3 linked regions of the Homo sapiens genome follow. The protein of the gene in region 2 interacts with the protein of the main gene of each other region in a biochemical or structural test. Each region holds a gene or a part of one and is shown on either strand. Other genes may lie near its edges.

Evidence for each region. Proteins that work in one complex are often made in the same cells at the same time.
Region 1: of the proteins of LRRK2 (region 2) and MSN, one has a biochemical effect on the other in vitro, tested with the Homo sapiens proteins (9 studies listed by IntAct).
Region 3: of the proteins of LRRK2 (region 2) and MBP, one has a biochemical effect on the other in vitro, tested with the Homo sapiens proteins (6 studies listed by BioGRID).

Annotation. Positions count from the first base shown.
Region 1 is NC_000023.11:65,712,640-65,719,671, forward strand, and holds part of MSN (moesin), read left to right. Parts: intron 1-4,178; coding exon 4,179-4,262; intron 4,263-7,032. UniProt on the Homo sapiens protein: Ezrin-radixin-moesin (ERM) family protein that connects the actin cytoskeleton to the plasma membrane and thereby regulates the structure and function of specific domains of the cell cortex.
Region 2 is NC_000012.12:40,220,176-40,228,010, forward strand, and holds the start of LRRK2 (leucine-rich repeat serine/threonine-protein kinase 2), read left to right. Parts: upstream 1-4,821; 5' UTR 4,822-4,956; coding exon 4,957-5,107; intron 5,108-5,379; coding exon 5,380-5,465; intron 5,466-7,835. UniProt on the Homo sapiens protein: Serine/threonine-protein kinase which phosphorylates a broad range of proteins involved in multiple processes such as neuronal plasticity, innate immunity, autophagy, and vesicle trafficking.
Region 3 is NC_000018.10:76,978,315-76,982,797, reverse strand, and holds the end of MBP (Golli-MBP), read left to right. Parts: intron 1-483; exon of another isoform or gene 484-620; intron 621-808; exon of another isoform or gene 809-2,326; coding exon 2,327-2,371; 3' UTR 2,372-3,965; downstream 3,966-4,483. UniProt on the Homo sapiens protein: The classic group of MBP isoforms (isoform 4-isoform 14) are with PLP the most abundant protein components of the myelin membrane in the CNS. They have a role in both its formation and stabilization.

The sequences.
Region 1 (7,032 bases), on a different chromosome or scaffold from region 2:
CAATCATCCTTCTATGTATACATTTTACAAAGTTGAGCTCACGGACTCTATGAAATACTGTTTACATTTCCTCAATATTACTAAAGTGTCTTCCGTGAGCATGAAATAGTCTTCATAAAGATTTTGTATGACCATATAAGAAGCCATTTTGTGGCTGTACTATATACATTATTTAAGCAAAATATCTAACAACTAAAAATCAATCTTTTTTTTCTTTTAATGGGAGACTTTTGTACTCTGTAAGAGGAATTTAGCATATTGGTTTACATTGTGAGGTTTGGATTTAGACCTGGATTCAAACCCTGTCTCCCCTGCTTAATAGCAATGTGACTTTAGACAAATACCTATTTCTTTATCTCCAATGTGGAGATAATACTCTACTTCACAGGGTGATTATTGATATTAAATGAGGTAGTACATATGAAGTGCCTGGTGAGTAGCAAGTCTTGATACAGGAAAGCTGCTGCCTGTTACTATTACTACTGCTACCATTACTACTGAGTTTTCAGCCAAAGGACTAAATCTCTAATTATGAAATTTCAGCTATCATTGACCTAGCTTCGAGGATCTATTTGTAAAGGTGGTATTTTTTCTAGTGCCCGTGAAATCATGTGTGTGGCTGTCTCTTATTTTGGTCTGGGCCTGTTTCTGCACCTTTGTCCTCCCACTGAGTTGGCTTTGGTAGCCCCTCTATGCCACCCATACCCACCTCTACTGAGGCCCCCTTCCCCTCTTGAGCCTAAGGAAGCCAATGAGACATAAATATAGGAAGCATTAGCAATGCAAGGCAGTATATAGAACCACCGACATCAGCACTGAAATGGTCTTTGGACCATTTATCTAGTTTAATTGGCTGCCCTCCATCCCATTCCTGCCTTTGCACAGGTAAGGGAAACTAAGGCCCAGGAAAAGGACAGGAGTTATCCAAGGTTGTAGATTTGACCAGCTACATGCTAGGCTTGGAATCCAGTGTTCTTCTTTGTTTTTAATTTTTATTTTAAGTTCAGGGGTACATGTGCAGGTTTGTCATAAGGTAAACTCATGTCATGGGGGTTCATTGTACAGATCATTTTATCACCCAGGTATTAAGCCTAGTACCCATTAGTTATTAAAATATTTTTTCCTGATCATCTCCCTCCTCCCACCCTCCACCTTCTATGTGTCTGTGTGTTCTCATCATTTAATTCCCACTTATAAGTGAGAACATGTGGTATTCTACAACCTCTGCCTCCCGGGTTAAAGCGATTCTCGTGCCTCAGCCACCAAAGTAGCTGGGATTACAGGTGTGCACCACCTTGCCTGGCTAATTTTTGTGTTTTTAGTAGAGATGGGGTTTCGCTATATTGTCCAGGCTGGTCTTGAACTCCTGGCCTCAAGGGATGCGTCCATCTTGGCCTCCCAAAGTGCTGGGATTACAGGTGTGAGCTACCATGCCCAGTCTGGCATTTGATTTTCTGTTCCTGCATTAGTTTGCTAAGGATAATGACCTCCACTCCATTCATGTTCCTGCAAAGGACATGATCTTGTTGTTTTTTATGGCTGCATACTAACATACATTTTCTTTATCCAGTCTACCATTGACTGGCATTTAGGTTGATTCCATGTCATTGCTATTGTGAATAGTGCTTCAATGCACATGCGCGTTTATGTATTTTTATGATAGAATGATTTATATTCCTTTGGATATATACCCCATAATGATATTGCTGGGTTGAATGGTAGTTTTGTTTTCAGGTCTTTGAGAAATTGCCACACTGTTTTCTACCATGGTTGAACTAATTTACACTCCCACCAACAGTGTATAAAGGTTCCCTTTTCTTTGCAATCTCACTAGCATCTGTTATTATTTTTTTTTGATTTTTTAATAATAGCTATTCTGACTTGTGTGAGATGGTATCTCATTGTGGTTTTGATTTGCATTTCTCTAATGATGTAAATTTTTTATATATGCTTCTTGGCCACATGTATGTCTTCTTTTGAAAAGTGTCTCTTCATATCCTTTGCTCACATTTTAATGGGGTTGTTTTTTTTCTTGTAAATTTGTTAAAGTTCCTTATAGATGCTGGATATTAGACCTTTGTAAGTTGCATAGTTTGCAAATATTTTCTCTGGTTCCGTAGGTTGCCTGTTAACTCGATAGTTTCTTTTGCTGTGCAGAAGCTCTTTAGTTTAGTTAGATCTCATTTGTCAATTTTTGCTTTTGTTGCAATTGCTTTTGGCGTCTTTGTTATGAAATCTTTGTCCATTCCTATGTTCAGAATGGTATTACGTAGGTTTTCTTTGAGGGTTTTTATAATTTTGAGTTTTACATTACTTTTACATTTAAGTCTTTAATACATATAGAGTTGATTTTTATATGTGAGATAAGGATGGGGTCCAGTTTCAATCTTCTACATATGGCTAACCAGTTATCCCAGCACTGTTTATTGAATTGGGAGTCCTTTTTCCATTGCTTGTTTTTGTCGACTTTGTCAAAGATCAGATGGTTGTAGGTGTGTGGCCTTATTTCTGGGCTCTCTATTCTGCTCCATTGGTCTCTGTGTCTGTTTTTGTACCAGTACAATGCTGTTTTGGTTACTGGAGCCCTCTAGTATCATTTGAAGTTGGGTAGCATGATGCCTCCAGCTTTGTTCTTTTTGCTTAGGATTGCCATGGTTATTCAGGCTGTTTTTTTGTTTCCATATGAATTTTAAAATAGTTTTTCCTAGTTCTGTGAAGAATGTCATTGGTAGTTTGATAGGAATAGCATTGAGTCTATTCTATGAATTGCTTTGGGCAGTATCACCATTTTAACAATATTGATTCTTCCTATTCATGAGCATGGACTGTTTCTCCATTTGTTTGTGTCATATCTGATTTCTTTGAGCAGTGATTTGTAGTTCTTCTTGTAGAGATCTTTCGCTTCCCTAGTTAACAGTATTCCTAGATATTTATTCTTTTGTGGCAGTTCTGAATGGGATTGCCTTCCTGATTTGGCTCTTGGCTTGACTGTTGTTGGTGTATACGAATGCTAGTGACTTTTGTATGTTGATTTTTGTACACTGAGACTTTGCTGAAGTTATTTATCAGATTAAGGAGCTTTTGGGCCGAGACTATTGGATTTTCTAGATATAGGATCATGTCATCTGCAAACAAGGATAGTTTGACTTCCTCTCCTCTTGCTTGGTTGCCCTCTATTTCTTTCTCTGGTCTGATTGCTCTGGCCAGGACTTCTAATACTATGTTGAATATGAGTGGTGAGAGAGGGCATTCTTGTCTTGTGTCGGTTTTAAAAGGGAATGCTTCCAGCTTTGGCGCATTCAGTATGATGTTGGTTGTGGCTTTATCAGATGGCTCTTATTATTTTGAGGTATGCTCCTTCAATACCTAGTTTATTGAGAACTTTTAACATGAAGGGGTGTTAGATTTTATTGAAAGCTTTTTCTGCCCTTTAGATTATCATGTGGAACCCAGTGCTCTTTGTCCTGATATTAATTTGCCTCTGCAATTGTTTACCAGTGCTATAGATAATCCAGGTAGATCAGAGGTGAGAAGAGAACCCTGTGAGATGAAGCTGTCTAGTATAGATGGAAAGGCCTTCCTGGAAGAAGTACAGTTATCATTTGCCTGCTCTTAGTTGTAGGCTGATCTGCATTCTTTTTTAAAAATTTTTTTGAGACAAAGTCTCGCTCTGTTGCCCAGGTTGGAGTGCAGTGGTGTGATCTCGGCTCACTGCAACCTCTACCTTCTGGGTTCCAGTGATTCTCATACCCCAGCCTCCCAAGTAGCTTGAACTACAGGTGTGCACCACCATGCCCGGATAATTTTTGTATTTTTAGTAGAGATGGGGTTTTGCCATGTTACCCAGGCTGGTCTCGAACTCCTGGCCTCAAGCAATCCACCCACCTCGGCCTCCCAAAGTGCTGGGATTACAGGCATGAGGCATTGCACCCGGCCTTCATGCTTGTCTGTTCTTTGGTAAGTATTGCTCTGTGGCTGTGTTGTTTGTCTTCAATAAGCTGCTTGGGAGCAGGGGTTGTGTTTGGGTCAATATTCTCCCTTCATCCCCATCAGTATCTAAGTTGCCCAGGCTCTTAGCATCCTAACTCCTTCCTCTGTGGTTGAGCAGAGACACTTGTCTCAGGCTCTGTTGAACACAGAGCCAGATGACTAACCTGCTTCCTTTGATCTCATCCTAGATCAGTGTGCGTGTGACCACCATGGATGCAGAGCTGGAGTTTGCCATCCAGCCCAACACCACCGGGAAGCAGCTATTTGACCAGGTAAGGCGGAGACTCCTTAGCCTCCTCTCCTTCTCTGAATAGCTTCCACCACAATGCCAACAATCCATGACTTTTGCCTCTTGTCAAAGAATCTCTCTTCCTGTTCACTCCAAGATAGATCAAAATGAAGGCTGATTCCAGACTTAATATGAAAGGAGGCAAAGTTAAACTTTGGCAGCCTGCACCCTATGGTCCTGATTAATTTTATCTTTGGTCCTGAATAAGGGAGAAAAGAAAATGGTGTATATTCTATGCTAGATGCTTTAAAAATCTTAGCATATGGAGCCTTCCTTTTAACTCTGAAACATGTAAGTGATGTCTTCTCCATTTTAATGATGAGGCTCAGAAGTTAAATAACTTAATTGCACCCAAATGATATTTGGCTGGGATTTGCACTCCACATTGTTGCCACTGCACCACACTGCCTCTGTCCCATGTTTTTGCTTCCTAGTAGAAGGAAACTAACTTACTCTCCCTGAGGTAGTAAGCTCTATGCACATTTCTCTCAAAAGAATGTTGGGACTTAGGACAACATGGGAGTTGATGGATGCAGTAGGAGGCTGCTTCATCTCCTACAGGCATGCCATGAAGATAATTGCTTACTCGCCATAGTGAAGAGGTCATTCCCATCTCCAACCCAAGGGGTGTCCCTTCATTGTGAATCATTATTGTCAGAAAGGATGTACTGTATACTATAATAAACAGATGGCAGCTACAGACATTTTTAGCATTCAAGGGAATGTGCCGTCTGTGGCCAGACTTCTAGGAGCAAAAATGAGGCTCCCATTTCCAGAGGCTGGGACCTCACCAGACAGGCCATTATCCTATTTCTCCACCAGACTCCGATGAAGTGGAGGTCTGAGTTATTGTCCAGGATGTTAGGCTGCATATCACCCTGATGGATTCTCCAGGCCCTCTTGCTTCCCTTTCTTCCTTGCTCTCTGTGTCCTTCTACCATATGAGAACTTCCCCAGGGTTGGAGAGAGGAAGAAAAAAAGAAGGAGGTAGTGTTCAAATAAGCTAATTCTATTCCTGTGAATACTTCTGACTGGTGAGAGAAAAGACAAGAGTAGAATGGAGACAGGGGTAGGAGAGGGCTAGAAATTTGAGGACAGCTTGGGTACACCTTCTGAGTTCTTATTACATAGAGTGGGAAAATTATTGTCTGTGGCTAATACAGATGAGAGTTAACATTTATCCAGGACTCAGTGTATGCTAAGTATTATGATAAGCATTTGACTATCACAAAGCTCTGTGAGTGCATGAATTAGTATGGGCATGTTTTACAGATGAGGACACAAAATCCTCATTTTCCTAGTTAGACCCTGGGAAAATTATTGAACTCTCTGGGTTGGTATCTTCATCCCCTCCCCCCGAGAAATATCTAATACTTACCTCACAGGATTTTTGTGAGTGTGTTATGTTTTGTATCTTACCTGTTACTCAAAAATCTGATTATAGTGGCATATAAGGATGTCCAATCCAAAAAGATAAATTCGAAATAGGTGAGAAAGATAAGAAAACACAAATAGGAAAGAAAGTGTTAGCTGGAAGAAAGCATCCAGCATATGGTAGAGAAGTAATAAATGATAGCTCCCTTTCCAATACCATTGTGCTTCTTGTATTATTAATTGAGCTGGAGTTGACGTGATGTGGTGGCTCATGTCTGTAATCCTAACACTGAGATGGGAGGATTGCTTGAGCCCAGGGGCTCGAGACCAGCCTGGGTAACACAGCGAGACCCTGTCTCTACAAAAAATTTAAAAATTAGCATGGCATGGTGGTGCACACCTATAGTCCCAGCTACTCAGGAGATTGTGCCAGGAGGGTTGCTCAAGCCCAGGAGTTCAAGGTTACAGTGAGCTATGATCACGCCACTGTACTCCAGCCTAGGTGACAGAGCAAGACTCTGTCTCTAAAAAAAAAAAAAAAAAGTAAAGAAAAATAATCTAGAATTGGGAGAATTGGGAGATGGGCTTAATGATCCTCAGAATATCTAACTTCAGATTTAGGTGGAACTTACTTCTCTGGAGTTTGTTTTGTGTTTGTTTTACTTTGAATGGCAAAGTGTAATCATTGATACTTAATTGGTGAAAATACAAATTAGTCTGAGGAATATTTAAATACAAGTTTACTACAATTAAAGTGATGTGCTTACATTCACATAGCTCACAAGTGATTATGGTGCTAGTCTGGAATGACTAAATGCATTCTAATTATAATTGTGCTTTGCATTCTCTCTTCACATGGAGGTTATATTGGAGAACTTTTAAAGGGACAGCCTAGTGAAGTCAAAAGGGCCTGGATAGAAAGTCATGAATCTTGGGCTGTAGGGTTGGCTCTATCACTAATTCGCTGTGATACAAACGTTTCCCTTATTTGGGCCTCAGTTTCTCATCTGTACAATGCCTAACTTGTTTCTCAAATCTGGTTATCTCTCAGAAAATTTATCTCTGGCATTTATTTGTGCATTCCATCTCTCTTTCTCTCCCATTTCTGTTCCTAGTATTGGGATTTCAGACAATCCTTTTCTGTAAAAAGGAGAGAAATGCCTCACCTGAGTATGATCAGCTGCTGGCATATGTGAGGAGGTAGGGCTAGCTGGCAGGGGGATCATCTCTTCCTTGACAGGCTTTTTACTGTCTCTAAGACAAAAGGGAGGAAGTGTCCATAGAACACATAGGCTTTTGGGCCCTTTGCTTTAGACAGCAGTATCATTCTGGGTAGCAGCTATTAGAGAGGGAAGCGGTTAGTCAGTGCAGATTTTACA
Region 2 (7,835 bases):
ATAATGTACATATATATAATGTACATATATATGTACATATATGTACACATATATATATAATATATATATTTTTAGACATATTCTCGCCCTGTGGCCCAGGTTGGAGTGCAGTGGTGCCATCTTGGCTCACTGCAACCTGTACCTCCTGGGTTCAAGCAATTCTCCTGCCTCAACCTCCCAAGTAGCTGTGATTACAGGCATGCACCACCACAACTGGCTAATTTTTATATTTTTAGTAAGACAGGGTTTCACCATGTTGGTCAGGCTGGTCTCAAACTCCTGGCCTCAAGTGATCCACCCACCTTGGCCTCCTAAAGTGCTGGTATTAAGGCATGAGCCACCGTGCCTGGCCATATTTTTTAAACTTATATATATAAAAACTAGGATACTTATCTTTTCATTTATAATTTGTGATAGTACCTTTTATATATTCTTCTTATTAATTTTTAATTGTTACACGCTTTCCCAAAATCTTCCAGCCTATGGTCATCTTTTAACTTTGTTGATGGAGTCTTTTGTATAGTGTTAGATTTTAATGTCTGTAAATTTAATAATTTTTTCCTATATGAACTGTGATTTTATTTTATTTTTTTTTAGTTTAGAGACAGGGCCTTGCTCTGTCCCTCAAGCTGGAGTGCAGTGTCACAATTGTAGCTCAGTGTAACCTATAACTCCTGGAATCAAGTGATCCCCTTGCCTCAAGCTTCCTGAGAAGTTAGGACTACTGGCATGCACTACCATACCTGGCTAATTTTTAAATATTTTGTAGAGACAAGGTCTCTCTATGTTTCCCAGGATCGTCTTAACTCTTGGCCTCAAGTAAGCCTCCCACCTCGGCTTCCCAAAGTGCTTGGATTACAGGTGTGAGCCACCATACCTGGCCTTAACTGTAATTTTTGTTTTGTTTCTTTCCCTCTTAATGTCAGATAGTTTTCTATATTTTTTTCAAATTTTTTTTTTTTTTTGAGACAGTCTCACTTCTTCACTCAGGCTGGAGTGCAATGGTGCGATCTTGGCTCACTGCAATCTCTGCCTCCTGGGTTCAAGCAATTCTCCTGGCTCGGTCTCCCCAGTAGCTCGGATTACATGCACGTGCCACCACACCTGGCTAATTTTTGTATTTTTAGTGGAGACGGGGTTTCACCATGTTGGCCAGGCTGGTCTCGAACTCCTGAGCTCAAGTGATCATCCCACCTGGGCCTCCCAAAGTGCTGGGATTACAGTCATGAGCCACTGCACCTGGCCTGTTTTCATTTTTTATACAAAAATGTTCAATCCATGTGGAATTTATTTTTGAATATGGTGTGAGGTAGGCATAATCATTTGATGCTTTTTCCACAAACAGTGGTCTCAGATTCATTTATCAAATTGCCCTTTTTTTTTCCACTGATACATAATGCAACATCTCTCATATATCATTTCCATATATGTGAAGATGTGTTTCTGGGTTTTCTATACTCTCATTGGTCACTTTGTATAGCTGTGTCAATAACATGCCAATTAATTTCTATAGCTTCAAAAAAGTATAATGCTTCCTATACTGTATAAGTTGTGTCCTCCATAAGAACACCAGGGTAGAGACTGAAATCCAAATCCTGCTTGATACACCCAGATATAAGGCTGTGCCTACCTAAAAGGCACTTTTTTCTAATTCATAGAAAGACTGCCTGCTGGGTAAACTATGTGCTTTCAGGGCTCCCCGCTTTCATCCTAGGGGTACTTTTTCCTTCTTCAGAAATTGATAGAGAAAGGCTACTACATACTCTGAATGGATGTCAATTGGACATCCAAAAGGACAAGATGGCAATTCTCCCATCTTGTCCTTCTTCAAAAGTGTCTAGTCTATACTAGGCCTTTTGATCTTGCTGAAATCTATGTAAATCTTGTTGAGAATTTCACTAATCTTGCATTGTTTTTTATTACTTTGTAGAGAATTGACATATTTTTGAATTTAGTTTTCCCATTAATTAATGTGATATTAATATTTATTCATGCCTTTTTAATGCCTTTTAACAGAGTTCAATAATTTATTCATAAAGGTTTTGTAAATATTTGTTAATTTATTTTCAAGGTTTCCCTTTCATTGTCATCATACACACACACACACACAATTGCACTTTATGCTTGTGCATCACTCATGTTTAGGAACACATTTTTTTTATAATGATGACATTAAAAAATACTTATTGGTCATTCAAAATGAATTTCCTTTTCAAAACCTTAGTTTATTATTTTTTTTCCTGGTCTATCTGTGGCGTAATACCCTCCTCCCAGTGATTTGTAAGAACTTTTGAAAGTTGAAGGCAAATTGTATTTCATCATATGTATTTCAAATTTTTTCTTCCTGTTTGCCGTTTGACTTCTAGTTTCATTATTGGGTATTTTTTCTTTGACTGCAGAAAATTTAAATTTGATGGAGTCACATATACTACCCTTATGTGATTTCTTTTTTGTTTTTATGTTTCCTTTTTCAAGATTATATAACTATTAATTTATATTTTATTTTTGAAGTTATTTTTATTTAACTTTTTAATCTATTTGATGTTTGCTGTAATTAGTAATGTCAGTTTTATTTTTTTTCTTTTCAGGAAATTAGCCAAATGTTCTAGCACCATTTTATTCTCCACTGAACCCTGCTTCCATCATAAATTCATGCCTTAATCTTCATTTTCAGTCTTGTTAACTACTTGAAGAGTTGATAAATCTTGGAATTTCAGTCAATCAATTAAACATTTTTGAAAACTAAGAGAATACTTTACCTTAACACTGCAGTAGTTCATGGGAGAATGCTCCCAACAAATAATTCATATTTTCACACTGTCTACTCACAGTCTGGCCAATATAGAGTAGATAATAAATAGGCAATAGATGGATGAATGAATTGTGGAAATTAGGAGACATCTTTTAATTTAGATTTATTTTTCTTTGGAAGGGAGGTAGGTTTTAATTTCTTGCAAGGTTGTAATTCAGTAGAACAGGAAGGGAGAAACTAATGCAGAGGAACAGAAGGAATGCATGAGATGGAGAATGCCTAGAAATGTTTGAGACATTGATTAAGTCATCAGAAATGGAAACAAGTTTAGAAACAACTTAGAAAATAATACACTGTAGGTCTGATAAATATTGTAAGATTGGGAGTTTTTTGTTAAATTATGGAAAATTTTATATAGATACAATAGTAGAACAGACCACATGAACCCATCTCATATTATCTTCAACAATTATCAATTCAAAAGTTGTTATCGTTATCTCTATCTCCACACATTTCATCTTTTCCTCCACCACTGGATGACTTTGAAAGAAATCCTAACCATTTCAACTATAAATATTTTAGCATGTCTCTGTAAAAGTTAAAGACTCTATAACAACAAGACATAGACCCAATATCCAGGTTGAGTAGGAGTTTGCTATCTTACTAATCTAATGTATTAACAAAGTCTAGAGCATTCTTATTAAAGTGGTAGAGCATGAAGAACCTTCTACCTGGAGTTAGGAGATTTGCTGGGTTGAAGTCCTGGCTCTCAACTTCCCACCTGTGTGACTCCAGCAAAGCTCTTCACTTCTCAATTCCAAATCTCAATTTCCTCACTAGTGAAAGAAGGATACATAGTAGTAGTTGTATCCATTTCAGAATTGTCATCAGGATTGAAGTAACAGATGTGAAAACAAAACTAAAATTGTGAAGTAGTAACTTCCAGTCCAATCCTCTTCTTTGTAAGTGATCTTGAGGACAGACACATCACCTGAAGGATAGATCATCTTTGCCTAGCCTTGTCTACAATGTTCTTGCTAGGTTTCTTTTCCTAAAAACACATTACTTAGGTACTTAACAGAACAAACAAACAAACAATCAAAAGACAAAACCAAAAAACTTTGGGGTTATAGACACCCATACTCATAAGTATTTCTGAATACCAAGAGAAGAGTATTTAGGTTTGCTTCTCTCAACTTTTCACCTTTCATTTCATGTACCCTGTCCTTTGTCTCAGCTCTAATAGCTCTGAGAGCTGATTACTTTTCGGGTGTCCCAAGTATCAGGATCCTGCCTAGTGCAACTCAAATTTCCAAAAGTTAATTTAGTGGCCTTTTGGTGACCAGAGCTTCAGATAACTCACAGGGAAACAATGTTTATTTCCTCTCCCACTAACAGTCACAAAAAATCATAAAAAAGAGTAGCGGGGGCAGTTTTGATGGCTAACCCCTCTTTCCATCCTTTGGGGGAAAATTGCTCATCTCCCTATAGGTGGAACTCTAAAGACAATGTATTCCTAAAAGGGGCCATCTGGGCGGTGTCCTCTTTTCCCAGCGCCCTGATTTCTATTCTTAGATCTGGAGATAGGCGGCTTTCATTTTTCCTGCTCCCAGTTCCCAGACCTTCCGTGGGGCCGCAGGATCCCCGGCTGGCGGGTCGCGGAGGGTGGCCGGCCGGGCTGCGCACTGCGCGCCTCCGCTGCGGGGCTCCGGGCCTGTGGACTCAGCGGAGTCCGCTGAGTCAGTTTCTTCCCGCGCGACTCCCGGCCGCGCCGCCGCTGCGGTGGAATCTGGTCCCAGGAGGCGGCGTCCGCCCGGGGTCCGGTCTAGGCGTGCGTGGGGGCCACGGTCACGGTCATCCCAGCCAGGCCCGGCTCCAGCAGCCCCACGGCCGCCGCCAGAGTTCTGCGCGGCCCGTCGCCTCGGCGGAGCCTCTGGCAGGCCCCTGAGCTCGTTTTTGGGGCCTGAGTGGGGGAGGAGGAAGCCGAGCAGGAGGGCTCCGGAGAGGGAGGGCAACGCGGGGCGGGGAGCTGCCTCCTTCCTCATAAACAGGCGGGCGTGGGCGCCGATGGGGCCCGCGGGGAGCGCTGGCTGCGGGCGGTGAGCTGAGCTCGCCCCCGGGGAGCTGTGGCCGGCGCCCCTGCCGGTTCCCTGAGCAGCGGACGTTCATGCTGGGAGGGCGGCGGGTTGGAAGCAGGTGCCACCATGGCTAGTGGCAGCTGTCAGGGGTGCGAAGAGGACGAGGAAACTCTGAAGAAGTTGATAGTCAGGCTGAACAATGTCCAGGAAGGAAAACAGATAGAAACGCTGGTCCAAATCCTGGAGGATCTGCTGGTGTTCACGTACTCCGAGCGCGGTAATCACTTGAAAATAAACTGTGCTTTTATTTTTGCAAACTTTCTCCCCCTCCTTACATTTGCAAATTTTGTCCTCCTCCCCTTGACCCTGCTCAAACCCGGACTCTTAAGGAGCCGCAAACTCCCATATCCTTTCCTTAGGGCAGAAAGCAGCTGAGAATTTCAGGAAGGTCTTCACCTTTTTGACTTTTCTCCCCGTTTCAGACTAAAAAGGAGAGGGGGTGCTGTGGATTGTGACTTTGCTTCTTTTCCCCACCCACTTGTTTTCCAGCCTCCAAGTTATTTCAAGGCAAAAATATCCATGTGCCTCTGTTGATCGTCTTGGACTCCTATATGAGAGTCGCGAGTGTGCAGCAGGTAAAGGCATTGTTTTCACTTCAACTCATTCTCCCTTCTGTTTGGAAGGAGACGTTTTACTGGCAATGTTAATATAGCCGAGAGTTCTTGGTTATTCCCAAAATTTGGCTTGAGGAACCTCTGACTGTGATTTTAAGATGGGAATATTGTTAAATCATTACGCAATGTAAACGGGATGAAGAGCCCCAGTATGTGTTCCCTGAGTGTCTTTAAGAAGTAACTTTATAAAACCAACAGTATGGATGGTGGTAGAAGGAGGATAAAAATGGGTTCGGTTTTAGTCTCGTTATTGGCAAGATGAATTCATTAGTGTTTAGACTTGACTATTCCAAGTATCTTCCCAATACAGAGCATGTCCTAGATGAGAAGATTATGAATAGTTTGGAAAAGGGGAATAATTAATAGTGATAAAATGCAACTTTGTCACTAGCAAACTCTTGTAGAGTTCAGCACTTTTTAAAATTCAAAGATTTCTAGCCTTTAGTTGTAGTATACCTTGTAGTATCTAAAGAAAGTGATGTCTTATGAGACCCTCATAGTTTGCAACTGTTGTCATATAAAATGCATGTAGAAGTGAAACTTTTACAATCTGTACCATAGGAAACCCAGAAATTTGCTATGTATCTTGGATTTTTTTTTAAAGGGGGCCTTAAAAATGGTAATTAAGAATGATTTACAGTCAAAACAAAATTATAGGCCAAGGTGATAACTTCCTTCGGAGCACTTAGAGATTTGGGGAACTGAAATCAGTTTTGTCATCTGCATGTTAACTCATGCAGAGAAAGAGAATTGGACTTTGAACTCCTTGGAGGTGCAGTCAGAAAGCCAATGTTTCTTAATGGTTGAGAGGCTTGACAGACATGAGGCATCTCAATCTTTAAAGTGGTGTGGGTCTATCTTTATCTTGATGTTTATCTCTGTATCTAGCTGTATCTAGTCTGGGTGAACCATCTAGCTTCTTTGATATGAGGACATTTACATCTGGAAGAAATATTTTAATTTGTTTTCAACTGTGAAATATTTTCCATCTGACTATTATAGATTTTCACGCTGCTATCAAACCAAACCAAGAAAAGATGGAGGCATAATAAAGATGCTGTTCTTTTAAGACTCAAAGTCGGAATTTTGCCTGTGGAATATGAGTCACTTTTTGGGCACTGGCCTATTGTGCTTCCTGCTCTGCACCCACGTCATCCCTTCTTACTTGTCTCTGCTTTGGTGTTCAGAAGTGCCTGATTCTGGCCACCTTCATTCCCTAGACTCTGTACTTGATAGAGTCACTCCTGCTTGATACTGCTCAGGACAGTCAGATCCTGGGTAGGCGTTTTGGTCTGCAGGGTCTAGATAAGGCAGTGCTATACTTGACAACCCAGGGGAGCCTGGAACATACTTCCTAATTCTTAATTTTAGAAATTGCCCAAGCCTGAGCATACTTGTCCGGAGTAGTTATGAGTGTCACTTAGTATTTCTGCCTAGAGAGTACCAGAGGCAAAGTATGCTGGAAAATAAGGAAGAGTTTTTTTAAAAGTAATTAATTACTTTTTTGGATATATCATAGTTGTATATATTTTGGGGATACATATGCTATTTGATACATGTATACAATGTGTAATGTTCAAATCAGGGTAACTGGAATATCCGTCACCTCGAACATTTTTCTTTGTGTTGGCAACGTTGCAATTTCTTTCTTCTAGCTATTTTAAAATATGCAATGAATTATTAACCATAATTTCCCTGCTATACTATTAAATATTAACTTAATTGCTTGTATCTAATTATATTTTTGTACACATTAACCACCTTCTCTTTATCCCTCCCCATCCTTTCATTTCCAGTCTCTGGTAACCACCATTCTACTCTCTTCCTCCATGAGATCCACCTTTTCCGCTCCTACATATGAGTGAGATTATGCAATATTTTATTTCTGTACCTGGCTTATTTAATTTAACCTAATGACCTCCAGTCCCACCCATGCTGTTGCAAATGACAGGATTTCATTTTTTATGACTGAATAATATTCCATTGTGTATGTATACCACATTTTCTTTTATTTTTAGTTAAGTAATTAATTTAGAGACAGGGTCTCACTCTGTTGCCCAGACTGGAGAGCAGTGGTGTGATCAAAGCTCACTGCAGGCCTGCAATCCTGGGCTGAAGTAGTCCTCCTGCCTCAGCCTCCCAGGTAGCTAGGACTATAAGCATGTGCCACCATGCTCAGCTAATTTTTTTTTCTTTTTTTACTTTTTGTAGAGATGGAGTCTTGCTATGTTGCCCAGGTTAGTTTCAAACTCCTGACCTCAAGTAATCCTCCTGCCTCGGCCTCCATATTTTCTTTGTTAATCTGTTGATAGACATATAAGGTGATTCTGT
Region 3 (4,483 bases), on a different chromosome or scaffold from region 2:
TGGCCATATGGCTGAATTAGTTGACTTGGAGCACTTCCAATAGATTAATAAATCAGCTCCCCCAGAAATGAGGGGGTCTAGAGGCAGGCAGATGGAGAGGACAGGGACTTCATAGCATTTAACATCATTTTACCATCTTTCCTTCCTGTTCTTTTTGGTGCTGTTGGAAATCAGTAGTGAGAGGAAAACACTCAAATCTGGAAGTCTAGCGCTGTCGGTAGGAACTGGGTAGAAAAAACTATGCATGTCCCCCCATCACTCGGAAACTACATCAGAACATCATAGGAGCATCCTGTTTCCATGTGCATTAGTTTCCACGAACATACATGTGAATGTTTTCCCACCTGTAGTGTTGCTGTGGAGTTGTGAGATGTCAAAGTGGAGGCAAGAGTATCTGCCTTTTGCAGTAGGCTCTGTTCTTTTCCTGTCCTGAGAGAGGAGGTCAGTCTAACCCTCACCTTGTGAGTTCAGCCTTATACTGACCTGAGCCCAGGGTGGATCAGATGCTGAGATCATGTGACTCCAAGTTGCAAGACACGTAATAGAGAGAAGCGTGACTGTTGCATCCATGCAGGCTCTAATCCTGGCTCCTTCGGGCTGGCTGAGCTTTGGCTCCTGAGCTATAAAGAGAGGATGATAGGAACACCTACTCCAGGAGGTGCTGTGAGCACAAAAGAGAAAACGGGGAAAAACGGGTTTCCTGCATGGTCAGTGCTCAACAAATTGTAGTTTCAATGATAAAAAGTAAAACCAATACACCCACCATTTTCAATGTCAAAAGGGGGCATCAAGAAAGTTAAGATTGTACCTCGGTAGGTTACCTTGCCAGAGGCTGCAGGGAACTTACTCCATTTCAGCACAGAAGCACTTTGTTTCATAGGACAGTGGTTCTACCACTTTCCAGGAAGTCCAAAGGCTGATCTCTTGGAAATGCAGCAAAAGGTGAGGTGAGTGCCAACTTCTGGGCTACTCCAGAGGGCAGCTCCAATGCCAGAGATGTTCAAGTTAAGCCAGGATCAAACAGGAAAAACCCACGCTCCCGAGGGAGAGGCTGGCCCTCGAGGGGCAGGGCCCTGCACCTGTCAGTCCCCAGGCCGGCAGGAGGCCTCCACGGTATGTGAGAAAGCTGCCTGTCTTGGGAGGGAAATCTCACTAGATGGTTCCTGAAGCGGCTTCGCAGGCTAGCATTTCATAAACGTTTTCACTTGTGAAAACAAAAATCCCTTGAGTGAGTTGTGTAAGCACAACATAGAGGCTTGTTTATAATGCTACGTATGTACTTGGAAAACCCCCCAAGAAGTCAGAACTGTCACCTTGGTCTGTTAGCTGCGTTACTTGGAAGGATTCTTGGCGTCTGCGCTCTGGTTATTTGTGTTACTGGGCAGTGTGGAAGACGTAGAATTAGATGAGGACAGTGTTGGTTCGTTGCTGATCGGCCACGGTAAAGAGCATATTTCTTTTCTATCTTGCTTTCTGGGGGCTCTTCGCCAAAATTGATCATTTCATAAAAGAGGGGAAACCCAAGGAGAGAGACTAAACTTTGAATAAAAATTTGAATGCAAAAAAAGTGCAGTTCTGCTTCGTCGATCTAAGTGACATTCTGAGTGACCAACGCATTCCTCTTTCTAGAGGGATGGCCACGCCTGGCTACCTCCACACCGTGGGCCACAGCACACCTGTGCACCATCTCAATTAGCTGCCAACTCTCTTTTAAACATCGAAATTATTTGTCCCCCAAACGTGTAAATGCATGGTTTTAAGACCCCTTCAAGTCAAAGTTTGCAGACAAAGCTCTCTGTGCATTTGATTTGTCTGGTGTGGCAGATGAGATGGCACATAGGAGGGACGTCCCCAGGGATGGACACGTGGCTTTGCTCTTTGCTGGCGCGTGTAGCAAGGGGTGTGCTAGGGTCCCGCCGAAAAAGAAGTTGCTCCTGTTGTCGCTGGCAGTTCCCCTCGGCTGCCCTGGCACCTCTAGCTGACGAGAAAAAGTGCTCATTCAAAGCAAAGCAATGGAGCGGCTGCACTTTCACCCACAGAAGTGCAGCGTTGTTTTGCAGAGCAGTGGTTATGCCAGGCACCACTCCCTGGGGCCTGGGAATCCGATTCCAGTTCTCTCTCACAGAACTGGAAATTCAATTAGCATTTGCTGAGGGAGGTCGGGAGAAATGGAATGAAAAGACCAGCTCTCCGGGGTGCCATTTCTATTAGCAGATGAGAGAGACACCCAATGGCTCAGCATCCACCCGGGACCACAGAAGAGGGGATGCTGGTGTGGGAGGACCCTGCGGCACTCTCGTCCTAACTCCTCTCTCTTCCTTTTCAGGGAGGAAGAGATAGTCGCTCTGGATCACCCATGGCTAGACGCTGAAAACCCACCTGGTTCCGGAATCCTGTCCTCAGCTTCTTAATATAACTGCCTTAAAACTTTAATCCCACTTGCCCCTGTTACCTAATTAGAGCAGATGACCCCTCCCCTAATGCCTGCGGAGTTGTGCACGTAGTAGGGTCAGGCCACGGCAGCCTACCGGCAATTTCCGGCCAACAGTTAAATGAGAACATGAAAACAGAAAACGGTTAAAACTGTCCCTTTCTGTGTGAAGATCACGTTCCTTCCCCCGCAATGTGCCCCCAGACGCACGTGGGTCTTCAGGGGGCCAGGTGCACAGACGTCCCTCCACGTTCACCCCTCCACCCTTGGACTTTCTTTTCGCCGTGGCTGCGGCACCCTTGCGCTTTTGCTGGTCACTGCCATGGAGGCACACAGCTGCAGAGACAGAGAGGACGTGGGCGGCAGAGAGGACTGTTGACATCCAAGCTTCCTTTGTTTTTTTTTCCTGTCCTTCTCTCACCTCCTAAAGTAGACTTCATTTTTCCTAACAGGATTAGACAGTCAAGGAGTGGCTTACTACATGTGGGAGCTTTTGGTATGTGACATGCGGGCTGGGCAGCTGTTAGAGTCCAACGTGGGGCAGCACAGAGAGGGGGCCACCTCCCCAGGCCGTGGCTGCCCACACACCCCAATTAGCTGAATTCGCGTGTGGCAGAGGGAGGAAAAGGAGGCAAACGTGGGCTGGGCAATGGCCTCACATAGGAAACAGGGTCTTCCTGGAGATTTGGTGATGGAGATGTCAAGCAGGTGGCCTCTGGACGTCACCGTTGCCCTGCATGGTGGCCCCAGAGCAGCCTCTATGAACAACCTCGTTTCCAAACCACAGCCCACAGCCGGAGAGTCCAGGAAGACTTGCGCACTCAGAGCAGAAGGGTAGGAGTCCTCTAGACAGCCTCGCAGCCGCGCCAGTCGCCCATAGACACTGGCTGTGACCGGGCGTGCTGGCAGCGGCAGTGCACAGTGGCCAGCACTAACCCTCCCTGAGAAGATAACCGGCTCATTCACTTCCTCCCAGAAGACGCGTGGTAGCGAGTAGGCACAGGCGTGCACCTGCTCCCGAATTACTCACCGAGACACACGGGCTGAGCAGACGGCCCCGTGGATGGAGACAAAGAGCTCTTCTGACCATATCCTTCTTAACACCCGCTGGCATCTCCTTTCGCGCCTCCCTCCCTAACCTACTGACCCACCTTTTGATTTTAGCGCACCTGTGATTGATAGGCCTTCCAAAGAGTCCCACGCTGGCATCACCCTCCCCGAGGACGGAGATGAGGAGTAGTCAGCGTGATGCCAAAACGCGTCTTCTTAATCCAATTCTAATTCTGAATGTTTCGTGTGGGCTTAATACCATGTCTATTAATATATAGCCTCGATGATGAGAGAGTTACAAAGAACAAAACTCCAGACACAAACCTCCAAATTTTTCAGCAGAAGCACTCTGCGTCGCTGAGCTGAGGTCGGCTCTGCGATCCATACGTGGCCGCACCCACACAGCACGTGCTGTGACGATGGCTGAACGGAAAGTGTACACTGTTCCTGAATATTGAAATAAAACAATAAACTTTTAATGGTATTTGCATGGGTGTCTTCTTTTGTGTTCCGGGCTGTAGCACACAGGCCCACATCAAGCGAGAGCCAGGTGTGCAGAGCAAATGTGACTCGGTGCCTCTGGGTCTCCAGGCAGGGCTGCCTGGCGGTGCCTGTTGGAGGGGGCATCCTCATCAGAGGGTCGATGGCTACTGAAGAAAGTGGAACAGAGGTAGTTGTTAGGGCACTGATTCTCTCACCAGGAAAAAAATATTTAGTGTCTCTGAAGACAAGCTTCCAAGTCTGTCTGTGTTCTGCTGTGTGGCTAGTGTACACACCCTGCAGATGTGAACCCAGGAGTCTTGGACGTGTTCCCCTTGCCACCTTTTTCTCTGAAAGCATGAAAGAGCGTGAAGCAATGTTTTACTTATAGTTACCTTTGGTTACAAGAATTTTTCTTCAAAAAGATAGACGAAAGTCTCTTTTGTTTTTTCTTTTTCTTTTGAGACAGGATCTTACTTTGCCACCCAGGTTGGAGTGCAGTGCTGCAATCTTGGCTCACTG